Homo sapiens: one gene and its partners. The protein of the gene in region 2 interacts with the protein of the main gene of each other region in a biochemical or structural test. Each region holds a gene or a part of one and is shown on either strand. Other genes may lie near its edges.

Region 1 (3,500 bases), on a different chromosome or scaffold from region 2:
CTTGTGGCCACACGGGCTTGTGATCTTCCCCTGGAGTGTGATTCCTCCTAACGCAGGCCTCCCCTGCAGCCCAGGGAAGATTAGTGTGTGCCCAGCACAGAAGGCTCCTGGAACTGCAGCTCTGACCCCAGAGCAGGGAGGCCAAGGGGGTAAAGTGTGCATGCTCAGACCCTTCCCCAGCCTAAACAAGGGAGCATAGGGGGACCCCCTGCAGATACGAGGAGACTATCCTTCCCCTGACGCCTTCTCAGGGACATTGGGCAGGGAGAGTGGCTCCTCTTTCATCCCACCTGGCCAGCTTTCCATCAAGAGTCCCCCCCCTCCCTCCCTGTGTGTACCCAGGTGCCCCAGAGGGATGGTCAAGGTCAAGGATTGTACGCCCTGGAGTGACATCGAGTGTGTCCACAAAGAATCAGGTACAAAGCCCACTGGGGAAGCCCCAGCTGCAGAGGAGACAGGGACCAGCAGCCCGAGACTCCTGTCTTTTCCTGTCTTTTCTCAGGCAATGGACATAATATATGGGTGATTTTGGTTGTGACTTTGGTTGTTCCGTTGCTGTTGGTGGCTGTGCTGATTGTCTGTTGTTGCATCGGCTCAGGTAGGTGCTGGCTGAGGGCAAGGGCTCTGGGCACTCTCTGCCCTGCCTTCTTCTGTTCCCACAGACAGAAACGCTCACCCCTGCCCCAAGTCCTAGTGTCTCTGGCCGGGCTCTATCTTCCTCCTTGTGATCACCCCCCATCCTCCCATCCTGTGCAACCCTAGGGCCCTGGTGTCATCCGTCCCTCTCCCAAGGCTGGGGGTCCCCTCATCTCCCAGCCAAGTCTGGGAAGGCAGGGCCAGTTCCTCCACTGGTCAGGCCCATCCAGGCAGGGGGCAGTCAGCTCCTCAACTGGATGACAAGAGTCGAGACGAGAAGTGGTTGTGGGATTTATGTAGCTTTGTTCAGAGCAAAACACAGAGCAGAAAACAGTGATGTTCCACTTGTTTGTTTTTAGCCTACTTCCCTTTATGCTCCCCGCTCCTGAAGGATCTCCCGAGTTAGCAGGGCCTCATGTGGATCCCCAGGCCCGGGGATCTTTGTCCAGTGTCCCAGCCCCCAGCCCACCCCTGCCCAACACTGCCCTCTAAGAAGGAGTGCTGCATGGGCCCCTCCCTGGCCACTAAGGGAACCGTCTTCTCTTCTAGGTTGTGGAGGGGACCCCAAGTGCATGGACAGGGTGAGTTGATTTCTCCAGGAGCTGGGGGCATCAGGGGCTCAGGAACTGCTTCTTGCCCACAGTGTAGTCCAGGTGGGTGGGTCCCCGTGCTCTCATGGCTGCCCTGAGTCTCTGAAGTGGCCTGGATGCTGTGCATTGACTATGGGGGACACAGGCCCTTTTGAGCATCATACAGGCTGGTGGGCCATTCTGTAGCCCTGTGCTTCCTACAGCCCAGGTGAGACCCTTACCCCACAGCCTGTACCCTGGGGATGGGGTGAGCCCCCAAGCCCAGCACCAGGGCCTGGCCCCAGCAGCAGGTCCTGGATGTGCTGAGCATGGACTTCCTGGAGTGACCTCACTGGGAGGGGGTGGTGGCAGCAGGTCCAGCCGTGCCCTACGGACCCCGTGGGGAGCCCTGGGTGTGGGCTTCTGAGTTGGCTCTTTGCCTTCCTAAGGTGTGTTTCTGGCGCTTGGGTCTCCTACGAGGGCCTGGGGCTGAGGACAATGCTCACAACGAGATTCTGAGCAACGCAGACTCGCTGTCCACTTTCGTCTCTGAGCAGCAAATGGAAAGCCAGGAGCCGGCAGATTTGACAGGTGTCACTGTACAGTCCCCAGGGGAGGCACAGTGTCTGCTGGTGAGTTGGGGACAGGCCCCTCCAAGACCTTGTAGGCAGGGGGTGAAGGCCATGCCTCGGCTCTCCTGGTCAAAGGGGAAGTGGAGCCTGAGGGAGATGGGACTGCAGGGGACGGGGCTGCGTGGGAAAAAGCAGCCACCCTCACAAGGGGACAGGCACTCTTCCAAATGTCTGCTTCTTAGTCCCTGTCCTGTCCTTGCCATGTCCTCAGAAACTGGAGCTCCAGAGGAATAGAGTGGGGGTCACAGGGTTTGTTGATGACTGAATAAGGCTGCACGGTCTCCACTGTGTGCTCCTACAGAAGTTAGGGAGCCCTTGCTCATAACAGCAGGGATTTTAAATTTACTCTGAAATTATTATTGCATTAAACATATTTGGATCTAAATCTCTGCCCAAATTTCTGCATATGGTTGTATGGAGGATTCCAAGAAGAAGCACAATTTCCAAGTCAGCCTGTAACAGTGCTGCTTACTGTGTACACGCACATACACGCACATGCACACACATGCATGTACACACATGCACACACACATGCACGTACCCACACATACAGGTACACACATGCACACAGCCCCCTAGTGTTGGTTTGTACCAGTTCATGTATTTTGATTTGACATTGAAGGGCTTTTTCTTTTCTTTTTTTTTCTTTTTTTTGCTATTTAGGAAAACATTGTTTTAAACGAACATTTCTTTGTTTTCACTGTTTTTGCGTAAGATCAGTGTCTTGTCTCTCAGAGTCTTTATGAGAAGGCCTGCTCTCCTACTCATGCTTTTTCTCACATTCAGACAGTAGATTCCTAATTTCTTCTTGCCCCTTTTTGTTCTAATATTTTCAGGTGTAGAAGCTTTAATTTTTAACCAGTGAAATCTGTAGATACTTTTACCTTTTCATTGCTCACTACTGTAGAAAGACCTTTTGCCAACACAAGACGAACTCCTCTAACTTCTTATGGAGATATTTTTTTCAATGATGTGATTTTTGCATATAACTTTATAATCTAAATGGAACTTGTTTTGTGTTTCAGTGCAAAGCGAGGCACTCCCTGAATTGTTCTAGTCACTGTCTGGTTTTTCCAACCCCTTTGAGCTGCCGATTCTCCCATTTCCCTCTGCTTTGGGTCCCTCCTTAATCACAGGTTAAATGCTCATCTAGACAATGATCTCCTTCCACCTAGACTGTTCCATTCAGTTCCTTTCTTGCATTAGTACCCATTTATTCTAACCAAAAATGTAATTAAAAAAAAAAGAAGGCAAACATTAAAAAGGTCAATAATCTCCAGCTTGATAAGGTGCTTTGACATGAACAAATAGTTTATATATTTAAAATGAGAAAATTTAAACTATCAAAAGGTACTCAGTAAGTAAAGAGAGCATCCTCCACTCTGCAGTGCCCTGGGTCTTTTTCCTCAAGTAACTATGAGATATCATTTCTTGTGATTCTTTGTCCAAATCTATGCATCAGTGTATGTGTATACAAAAGACATTATATTATTAACGAATGGTCCCCAACCTTTTGGCACCAGGGACCAGTTTTGTGGAAGACAATTTTTCTATGGACTGGGAGGTGAAGATGGTTTGGGGATGATTCAAGCACATTACGTTTATTGTGTACTTTATTTCTATTCTTATCACATTATAATATATAATGAAATAATTATACAAC
Region 2 (3,500 bases):
ATCACTTGGGAGGCTTTGGGAAGATGTCCCACCGGAGCCAGATTAAGAAATTTAGGGGCCTTATATATAATTCTATAGAAATGCTAAGACCATAAAATAAAAATTTATTTTTCAAAGTGAAACATTACTTAGAGGTATGCTGAAGTTATAATAGAGTTTTTCTAAGTGTTCTCATTTTTTTCCTCTCTTATCTTGATGCCTCTCGATATCCAGATTGTGTGCTTACTTTGCCCATCCATTGAGTAAAGCATCATGGCTTCCCACCCTGAAATCCCCCTCCCACCTGCTTGCGGATGGCTATGAAAATTTTCAATGAGATTTAAGGGTTTTCTGCCACACTTAAAGACTCGAATGACTAAGTTCTTTACGGAGCTGTAAGCCGCTGGCCTGGCACATACAGCTAGGCAGTCTCCACCGAGGCTGCCCAGTTCCTGTGAGCCCGGCTGTATGACAGTTCTAAGCTTCTATAGGAAGACAGTGGCACGTTGGGTCATCCTGCCAAAGGCTGTAAAACTCAGCTTCTCCCCACCCTAGGGAGAGTGGGTAACCAAAGGTGTGAGAGAGAAACCCCATTCAGTTACAACTTCATGATGCTGTGACAAGACTTTAAAAACAGAAACACATTGTCACTTTCTCTCTTTCAACATCTCCTATTATCGGACACTACTTAAAGCAATTTTAGCTTTGCTTTCAGGAAACTTCTACTGAAGTCTTCGTTCTGGGCCCATTTCATTGTCTCTGTTTGCTTGTTGATAACTATGGCATGTGAGATGGAAAGGGTTCACAACCAGGGCTGACAGCTGCTGTCCTCTGATGGCTCAGCCCATGAATGCTCTGGTCTTTCTATTCTCAGAGACTATTTTTTGTTTTGAGGCTTGACTATTTTTTGTTTTGTTTTGTTTTGTTTTTGAGACGGAGTCTCGCTTCATCACCCAGGCTAGAGTGCAGTGGCATGATCTCGGCTCACTGCAACATCTACCTCCAGGGTTCAAGTGATTCTTCTGCCTCAGCCTCCTGAGTAGCTGGGATTACAGGTGTGTGCCACCATGCCCAGCTAATTTTGTATTTTTAGTAGGACGGAGTTCCACCATGTTGGCCAGGCTGGTCTCGAACTCCTGACCTTAAGTTATCCACCAGCCTTGACCTCTCAAAGTGCTGGGATTATAGGTGTGAGCCACCATGCCCAGCCAAGGCTTGACCATTTTGATTTTAAGTGAAAAAAGAGATATTCTGGGCCGGGTGAGGTGGCTCACGCCTGTAATCCCAGCACTTTGGGATGCTGAGGAGAGCTGATCACCTGAGGTCAGGAGTTCAAGACTAGCCTGGCCAACATGGTGAAACCTCATCTCTACTAAAAATACAAAAATTAGCTGGGTGTGGCGGCTCACGCCTGTAATCCCAGCTACTTGGGAGGCTGAGGCAGGAGAATTGCTTGAACCCAGGAGGTGGAGGTTGCAGTAAGCTGAGATTATGCCATTGCACTCCAGCCTGGGCAACAAGAGTGAAACTCTGTCTCAAAAAAAAAAAGAAAGAGATATTCTGGGTATATAAGTTTCCTAGGGCTGCTGTAACAAAGTAACACAAACTAGCAGGTTTAAAACAGTTTTTAAAATGTGTTTTCACAGTTCTGGAGGCCTGAGTCAGAAGTCAAGATGCCAACAGTGTTGGTTCCCTTTTAAGAGGCTCCGAGGAATAATCTTTTTCATGCCTTTCCCTGCTTCGGGTGGGTGGAGGAATCCTCAGTGCTCCTTGTCTTGTAGATGAGGCACAGCAGTCTCTGCCTATGTTCCCTTCTCTGTGTCTAAATCTCCCTCTTATGAGACAGTCACTGGATTAGGAATTAGGGCCCACCTAATCCAGTATGGCCTCATCTTTGTGTGTGTGTGTGTGTGTGTGTGTGTGTGTGTGTGTGTGTGTGTGTGAGACAGTGTCTCACTACATCGCCCAAGCTGGAGTGCAGTGGCATGATCTCGGCTCAGTGCAACCTCCACCTCCTGGGTTCAAGCAATCCTCCCACCTCAGCCTCCCAAGTAGCTGGGACTACAGGCACCCGCCACCATGTCTGGCTAATTTTTGTATTTTTTTGTAGAGATGGAGTTTCAAAATGTTGCCCAGGCTAGTCTTGAACTCCTGGGCTCATGCAATCTGCCCACCTCAGCCTCCCAAGTTCTGGGATTACGGGCATGAGCCACTGCGCCTGGCCAGCATGACCTCATCTTAATGAGATTTTATCTGCAAACGTCCTGGGTCCACATAAGGTCGCATTCTCATATTCCAGATAGACATGAATTTTGGGGAAGAGGGGAGAACACTATTCAACCAGTACACTAGATAGCTTTGGTTTACTAGCATTGTGAAGTCTTTATAAGGCACTTATTCATTAAGGCGCCAGTTAGTCCTAAAAACCCACAGCCCCAGAACAAGGAAAGCCGAGGGGGGTCTCATCTTGTGCCCACCATCTTGGTCCTTTGAAGGTTCCACTTCTGCCGCATGAGCTGGGCTGAAGCAAACAGCCAGTGCCAGACACAGTCTGTACCTTTCTGGCGGAGGGTCGATCATCTATTAATAAGGCAGGATCTCTCTTAAAATCTTTAATGTATTGGCTTAGAGATAAAAGGGTCCGGGCAATCCTGACTTACTGCTTGTTCATTATCATTGAATACTAGCCAGAAGCTAATAAATATGCTAGGGTGACCACTTACCATTATAAGAAAACACTAGACATTTTATTTTCCAGTTATAATTGCTACCTATAAAATAAAGATCTTATAAACTATTCAGGTTCATTACTAAATGGTGATGGTACAAGAAAGCCTATAGGCTTCAATAATGAGGAAAGCAAAAGGGTAAATACCTTGTAATAAAGGTGAAAGAGTCAGAGTAGCTTTGGATTAGATCCAATTTTGGCCAAACTGAAAGCTTTAGATAAACACTTCTAGGGTAGAGAGTCCATGAGAAGGGGGATAAGGCAGATGGTAATACTGAGTAATTTCTGTTTCTACGCCATTTTTATTTTCAGAATTTTACTTTTCTAATTAAATTTTAAAGTCAACGTGTTTTTGTATTAAAATTATTTTCCTTTACACCATAGTATTGAAAGGTTTGCTGACTTCTAAAACATTCCTTTGTTCACCTATTCGACAAGCATATTCCAAGAGCCTAAATGTGCCAATCACATAAATGTGATAGGCATAGATTAGGAAATAGTAACACCTATCACTCATTGAGCACTTAGTGTGTTGCCAAAGACTGATTTAAGTACTTCACATAAACTTATTTGTGTAACCCTCGAAACCTTCCTATGATGTGGTTACGGATAATTATCTTCAGTCTATGGACGAGGAAAAAATGTGTAACATGTCTAAAGTTAACACTGCTCAAAGATAGTGGAACCAAGGCTCCAACACCAATAGCCTGGGTCCGCTGAGCTCAATCATTGCACCTCACAACCCTCTGGGTTTATGAAAATAAAAAGGGTACGGACCTGGCCACTAGGGGAC
Region 3 (3,277 bases), on a different chromosome or scaffold from region 2:
GATGGTGATCAGAGGCTTCTTTGATTTGTAAGAGAAGCACAGACATCTAAAAAGCAGCCCTTCTTAAATAATCCTTTATCATAAGGAGCGAACAGACAGAGCTTCCCAGGGGCCTGCCTCCACCTAATGGCGCGTCAGAAAAGCCAGCTTTGACAGATAGGTGTGTCGCCTGTTGCTCACAGAATGGTAGGGAAGCTATGTAAGAACAGTGGTTTTTGGTCCCAACAGAAGAGAGCCAGGGAAAGTTTGCAGGCCAACTTAGGCTTGGCGGTTTTCCTCAGCCTCCCTGGGGGCCAAGTCAGCTTTCCTTGAGACTGGAAAGAAACATCCTTCGAGAGCTCTGGCTCATAGACTGCAATGCTCTCCTGTTCCCTTGCTCAGGCAGGTAAAGCTCTTTGTAGACTCCACACTCTCCAATGAGATTTCATTGTGCTCTCCCTAAGAAATGTGAGCAATAGTTTCCTGACTTTTTAATGATCTGCCTGTTCTTTCCACTCAGAGATCGAGCCAGCGCAGAGATGTGCCTCGAACCACACAAAGCACCTCAAGGCCCAAGTGCGCCCGGGCCTCCTGCAAGAACATCCTGGCCTGCCGCAGCGAGGAGCTCTGCATGGAGTGTCAGCATCCCAACCAGAGGATGGGCCCTGGGGCCCACCGGGGTGAGCCTGCCCCCGAAGACCCCCCCAAGCAGCGTTGCCGGGCCCCCGCCTGTGATCATTTTGGCAATGCCAAGTGCAACGGCTACTGCAACGAATGCTTTCAGTTCAAGCAGATGTATGGCTAACCGGAAACAGGTGGGTCACCTCCTGCAAGAAGTGGGGCCTCGAGCTGTCAGTCATCATGGTGCTATCCTCTGAACCCCTCAGCTGCCACTGCAACAGTGGGCTTAAGGGTGTCTGAGCAGGAGAGGAAAGATAAGCTCTTCGTGGTGCCCACGATGCTCAGGTTTGGTAACCCGGGAGTGTTCCCAGGTGGCCTTAGAAAGCAAAGCTTGTAACTGGCAAGGGATGATGTCAGATTCAGCCCAAGGTTCCTCCTCTCCTACCAAGCAGGAGGCCAGGAACTTCTTTGGACTTGGAAGGTGTGCGGGGACTGGCCGAGGCCCCTGCACCCTGCGCATCAGGACTGCTTCATCGTCTTGGCTGAGAAAGGGAAAAGACACACAAGTCGCGTGGGTTGGAGAAGCCAGAGCCATTCCACCTCCCCTCCCCCAGCATCTCTCAGAGATGTGAAGCCAGATCCTCATGGCAGCGAGGCCCTCTGCAAGAAGCTCAAGGAAGCTCAGGGAAAATGGACGTATTCAGAGAGTGTTTGTAGTTCATGGTTTTTCCCTACCTGCCCGGTTCCTTTCCTGAGGACCCGGCAGAAATGCAGAACCATCCATGGACTGTGATTCTGAGGCTGCTGAGACTGAACATGTTCACATTGACAGAAAAACAAGCTGCTCTTTATAATATGCACCTTTTAAAAAATTAGAATATTTTACTGGGAAGACGTGTAACTCTTTGGGTTATTACTGTCTTTACTTCTAAAGAAGTTAGCTTGAACTGAGGAGTAAAAGTGTGTACATATATAATATACCCTTACATTATGTATGAGGGATTTTTTTAAATTATATTGAAATGCTGCCCTAGAAGTACAATAGGAAGGCTAAATAATAATAACCTGTTTTCTGGTTGTTGTTGGGGCATGAGCTTGTGTATACACTGCTTGCATAAACTCAACCAGCTGCCTTTTTAAAGGGAGCTCTAGTCCTTTTTGTGTAATTCACTTTATTTATTTTATTACAAACTTCAAGATTATTTAAGTGAAGATATTTCTTCAGCTCTGGGGAAAATGCCACAGTGTTCTCCTGAGAGAACATCCTTGCTTTGAGTCAGGCTGTGGGCAAGTTCCTGACCACAGGGAGTAAATTGGCCTCTTTGATACACTTTTGCTTGCCTCCCCAGGAAAGAAGGAATTGCATCCAAGGTATACATACATATTCATCGATGTTTCGTGCTTCTCCTTATGAAACTCCAGCTATGTAATAAAAAACTATACTCTGTGTTCTGTTAATGCCTCTGAGTGTCCTACCTCCTTGGAGATGAGATAGGGAAGGAGCAGGGATGAGACTGGCAATGGTCACAGGGAAAGATGTGGCCTTTTGTGATGGTTTTATTTTCTGTTAACACTGTGTCCTGGGGGGGCTGGGAAGTCCCCTGCATCCCATGGTACCCTGGTATTGGGACAGCAAAAGCCAGTAACCATGAGTATGAGGAAATCTCTTTCTGTTGCTGGCTTACAGTTTCTCTGTGTGCTTTGTGGTTGCTGTCATATTTGCTCTAGAAGAAAAAAAAAAAAGGAGGGGAAATGCATTTTCCCCAGAGATAAAGGCTGCCATTTTGGGGGTCTGTACTTATGGCCTGAAAATATTTGTGATCCATAACTCTACACAGCCTTTACTCATACTATTAGGCACACTTTCCCCTTAGAGCCCCCTAAGTTTTTCCCAGACGAATCTTTATAATTTCTTTCCAAAGATACCAAATAAACTTCAGTGTTTTCATCTAATTCTCTTAAAGTTGATATCTTAATATTTTGTGTTGATCATTATTTCCATTCTTAATGTGAAAAAAAGTAATTATTTATACTTATTATAAAAAGTATTTGAAATTTGCACATTTAATTGTCCCTAATAGAAAGCCACCTATTCTTTGTTGGATTTCTTCAAGTTTTTCTAAATAAATGTAACTTTTCACAAGAGTCAACATTAAAAAATAAATTATTTAAGAACAGATTGTGATGTTTTCAATTGATGAATGCTGAAAGAAAAAGAAAGGCTTGGATATTAAGACTGTGCTTCCTAAGCAGCTTTATTTTGAGGTGCACCTGAGCAATGCACACATCTCTCATCCATGGTAGCAAGGCAGCTTTTCATAAATAATAACTGTATGAGGTCCAGGCCCAGTCCTCAAGCACAAGCCCCCGCTTGACAATGAAGACACTCTTCCTCTGATGGGAAGAGGAAAGGGATGCTAGGACCCTGTGGCCCTTTTAAGCTTCCTGCCCTAAACTTTTATAAAGTGAAGAAAGAGAAAACAAGAGGGAGGAGGAGGGAAAGACAGGAAAGAGAGAAGTAGGCAGGCAGGAAGGAAGACTGATGTAAGATCTCCTGGGTCAGACAAAGCAGAGGAGGCAGCGTGGCTGTGCTGGCTGCCAGAACCAGGAAATTAAAAAATAACACATTCCTCCATGCGCAAGCCTTCATCCCCACCTCCCATCCAGTACAAATGGA
Region 4 (3,280 bases), on a different chromosome or scaffold from region 2:
TTTTTTTATTTTTCATTTTTTTTATTTTTAGAGATGGGGCTTCCCTTTGTCACCCAGGCTGGAGTGCAGTGGCGTGATCATGGCTCACTGCAACCCAGACCTCCTGGGCTCAAGTGATTCTTCCACCTCAACCCTTAGAGTAGCTGGGATCATAGGTGCACACCACCATGCCCAGCCAATTTTTAAATTTTTTTTTTCTTTTTGAGGCAGAGTCTTGCTCTGTTGCCCAGGCTGGAGTGCAATGGCATGATCTTGGCACACTGCAACCCCCGCCTCCCAGGTTCAAGCTATTCTCCTGCCTCAGCCTCCTGAGTAGCTGGGGTTACAGGCACTTGGCATTATGCCTGGCTAATTTTTGTATTTTTGTAGAGACGGGGTTTTACTATGCTGGCCAGGCTGGTCTTGAACTCCTGACTTCAGGTGATCCTCCTGCCTCGGCCTCCCAAAGTGCTGGGATTACAGGCGTGAGCCACCGCACCCGGCCCAATTTTTTACTTTTTTTTTTTTTTTTGTAGAGACGGGGTCTAGCCATCTTTTCTAAGCTGGTCTCGAACTTAATGTGCTCAAATGATCTTGCCTTAGCCTTCCAAAGTACTGGGATTACAGGCATGAGCCCCTAAATTTGGCCCCTACATTTTCTTTAATCTTAATCAATTTACATTTAAACAGCCCATGTGGCTAGCGGCTACTGTACTGGACAGCGCAGATCCAGAGTTTAGGCAGAGAAGAGACCCCCAGGCCTGAGCCCTGGGCCACACTAGCATGTGGAGGTCAGGAAGAGGATGGAGCCGTCAAAGGAGGTGGAGGGGCAGCCAGAGAGGACAGAATCATGTTCTGGAAGCCAAGGGCAGAAAGTCAAGTCAGATGCAGGTGGAAATTAACCACTGGATTTGCAAGATGAGGGTTCCTGGCCTCCTCCTCAGGAGGAAGGTTGTGCTTGTCTGAGGGAGCCGAGGAAGGAGGGCCGGTGGTGAGGACAGGAAGTGTGGCTGACCGAGCCTGAAGCCCTGCAGCTGTGGGGTCTACGTTGGTAGGAGAGGCTCCCCTCACAACTGGAGTCGGCACTGGCCTGGTTGTCTGGGAGGCAGAGGTCCCTGATAACCCTGGAGCTGACTCTGTGTCCAGAGCACTGAATGCCAGGGCCAGAGAATCCTGCATGACAGTGACCCAAGCATGTTTCCTCGAACCCTCCCTTTGATCTATTCCATTCTCAACCCCCTGGTCGCTAGGCAGTGGCCCTAGCAACGGGTCTAGTGGGGTACTAAAGCCTGGGGGCCACCGTTCCACCGCGGGAGACCCGTAGTTACCTGTCCTCTGATAACAGACCCCACATCAGCCCAAAATTTCTTCACCAGGGACCTTACACATCCCGTCCTCGGTCCCCTGAGATACCTTGCTATCCTCTTCCCTTCAGATATCAACAGTGATGGTGTCCTGGATGAGCAGGAGCTGGAGGCACTCTTCACCAAGGAGGTGAGCATCTTGGAAGCCTCGGGCACCTGGAGGGACGCCCAAATCAGCCACTTGTTTCCTCCTGCAGTCCCCTTAAATCCCCCTGGATGGGAGCTCAGTGAAAACTACAACTCCCATCAGCCCCTGGGGCAAAAACGGCTCCCAGGAGTGGTAGCGTGCCCAAAGGACTGCTGGGAGTTGAAGTTGTCGGGAATGAGCTCGCTGGGGACCTCTCAATGCTGTCTGCCTCTCGCTTGCTCCTGCAGCTGGAGAAAGTGTACGACCCAAAGAATGAGGAGGACGACATGCGGGAGATGGAGGAGGAGCGACTGCGCATGCGGGAGCATGTGATGAAGAATGTGAGGTGGGGGCCAGGCGGGGGAGAGGACGGGCCCCCAGCTCTGTCACTCACCCTTATCTGGCTCCCCAGGTGGACACCAACCAGGACCGCCTCGTGACCCTGGAGGAGTTCCTCGCATCCACTCAGAGGAAGGAGTTTGGGGACACCGGGGAGGGCTGGGAGGTGAGAACATGGGGGATACTCGGGGTCCTGAACCTCTCTCTCTTCTAGCCATGACCTTTCTTTCAGAATCTTAGGCCCCTTCTCTTTCTCTCTGGGTCCCCGTCCATTCTCCTGGGTCACTGCATCTCTATCTCTGGGTCTCTGTTTTCCCCTGTCTCTAGGACTCTTATTTATTTATTTATTTATTTATTTATTTATTTATTTATTCTGAGACGGAGTCTCACTCCATCGCCCAGGCTGCAGTGCAGTGGCACGATCTCGGCTCACTGCAGCCTCCACCTCCCAGGTTCAAGCAATTCTCCTGGCTCATCCTCTTGAGTAGCTGGGATTATAGGTGCGTGCCACCACACCCAGCTGATTTTTGTATTTTTAGTAGAGGCAGGATTTCACCATGTTGGCCAGGCTGGTCTCAAACTCCTGACCTCAGGTTATCCACCCACCTTGGCCTCCCAAAGTGCTGGGATTAGAGGTGTGATTTTTTTTTTTTTTTTTTTTTTTCTGAAACAGGGTCTTGCTCTGTCGCGTAGGCTGGAGCCCAGTGGTGGGATCTCGGCTCACTGCAACCTCCGCCTCTTGGATTCAAGCGATCCTCCCATCTCAGCCTCATGAGTAGCTGGGATTACAGGCGTGAGCCACCATGCCTGGCTAATTTTTGTATTTTTTGTAGAGATGGGGTTTTGCCATATCGGCCAGGCTGCTCTAGAACTGCTGGACTCAAGCGATCCACCTGACCTGGCCTCCCTAAGTGGTGGGATTACAGGCATGCACCACCGCACCACACCTAGCTAATTTTTGTATTTTTTGGTAGAGACAGGGTTTTGCATGTTGGCCAGGCTGCTCTGAAACTCCTGGACTCAAGCTATCCACCCTTCTCAGCCTCCCAAAGTGCTGGGATTACCCAGGCTGGAGTGCAGGGGTGTTATCATGGCCCACTGCAGCCTCAAACTCCTGTCCTCAAGTGATCCTCCTGCCTGAGCCTCCCTATTAGCTGGGACTACAGGCACATGCCAGCATGCCTAGCTAATCTAGCTCATTCTTTTATTTATTTATTAATATTTTTTGAGACAGGGTCTCCTGTCACCCAGGCTGGAGTGCAGTGGTGTAATCATAGTTCACTGCAGCCTTGAATTCCTGGGCTCAGGTGATCCTCCTTCCTTAGCCTCCTGAGTAACTGGGACTACAGGCACATACCACCATGCCCAGCTAATCTAGGTCTCTGTTTTATTTATTTATTTATTTGTTTGTTTATTTTTCAATACAGAGTTTTGCTCTTGTTGCCCAGGCTGTAGTGCAATGGTGCATTCT

The links.
Region 1: of the proteins of CASP8 (region 2) and TNFRSF10A, one has a biochemical effect on the other in vitro, tested with the Homo sapiens proteins (one study listed by BioGRID).
Region 3: the proteins of CASP8 (region 2) and TNFAIP3 form a complex in vitro, tested with the Homo sapiens proteins (one study listed by BioGRID).
Region 4: of the proteins of CASP8 (region 2) and NUCB1, one has a biochemical effect on the other in vitro, tested with the Homo sapiens proteins (one study listed by IntAct).

Annotation. Positions count from the first base shown.
Region 1 is NC_000008.11:23,197,603-23,201,102, reverse strand, and holds part of TNFRSF10A (tumor necrosis factor receptor superfamily member 10A), read left to right. Parts: intron 1-342; coding exon 343-416; intron 417-502; coding exon 503-598; intron 599-1,185; coding exon 1,186-1,217; intron 1,218-1,654; coding exon 1,655-1,837; intron 1,838-3,500. UniProt on the Homo sapiens protein: Receptor for the cytotoxic ligand TNFSF10/TRAIL. The adapter molecule FADD recruits caspase-8 to the activated receptor.
Region 2 is NC_000002.12:201,267,036-201,270,535, forward strand, and holds part of CASP8 (caspase-8 isoform 2 precursor), read left to right. Parts: intron 1-2,474; coding exon of another isoform or gene 2,475-2,570; intron 2,571-3,500. UniProt on the Homo sapiens protein: Thiol protease that plays a key role in programmed cell death by acting as a molecular switch for apoptosis, necroptosis and pyroptosis, and is required to prevent tissue damage during embryonic development and adulthood.
Region 3 is NC_000006.12:137,880,536-137,883,812, forward strand, and holds the end of TNFAIP3 (tumor necrosis factor alpha-induced protein 3), read left to right. Parts: intron 1-499; coding exon 500-784; 3' UTR 785-2,777; downstream 2,778-3,277. UniProt on the Homo sapiens protein: Ubiquitin-editing enzyme that contains both ubiquitin ligase and deubiquitinase activities.
Region 4 is NC_000019.10:48,917,312-48,920,591, forward strand, and holds part of NUCB1 (nucleobindin-1 precursor), read left to right. Parts: intron 1-1,392; exon of another isoform or gene 1,393-1,414; coding exon 1,415-1,473; exon of another isoform or gene 1,474-1,580; intron 1,581-1,718; coding exon 1,719-1,811; intron 1,812-1,882; coding exon 1,883-1,975; intron 1,976-3,280. UniProt on the Homo sapiens protein: Major calcium-binding protein of the Golgi which may have a role in calcium homeostasis. Acts as a non-receptor guanine nucleotide exchange factor which binds to and activates alpha subunits of guanine nucleotide-binding proteins (G proteins).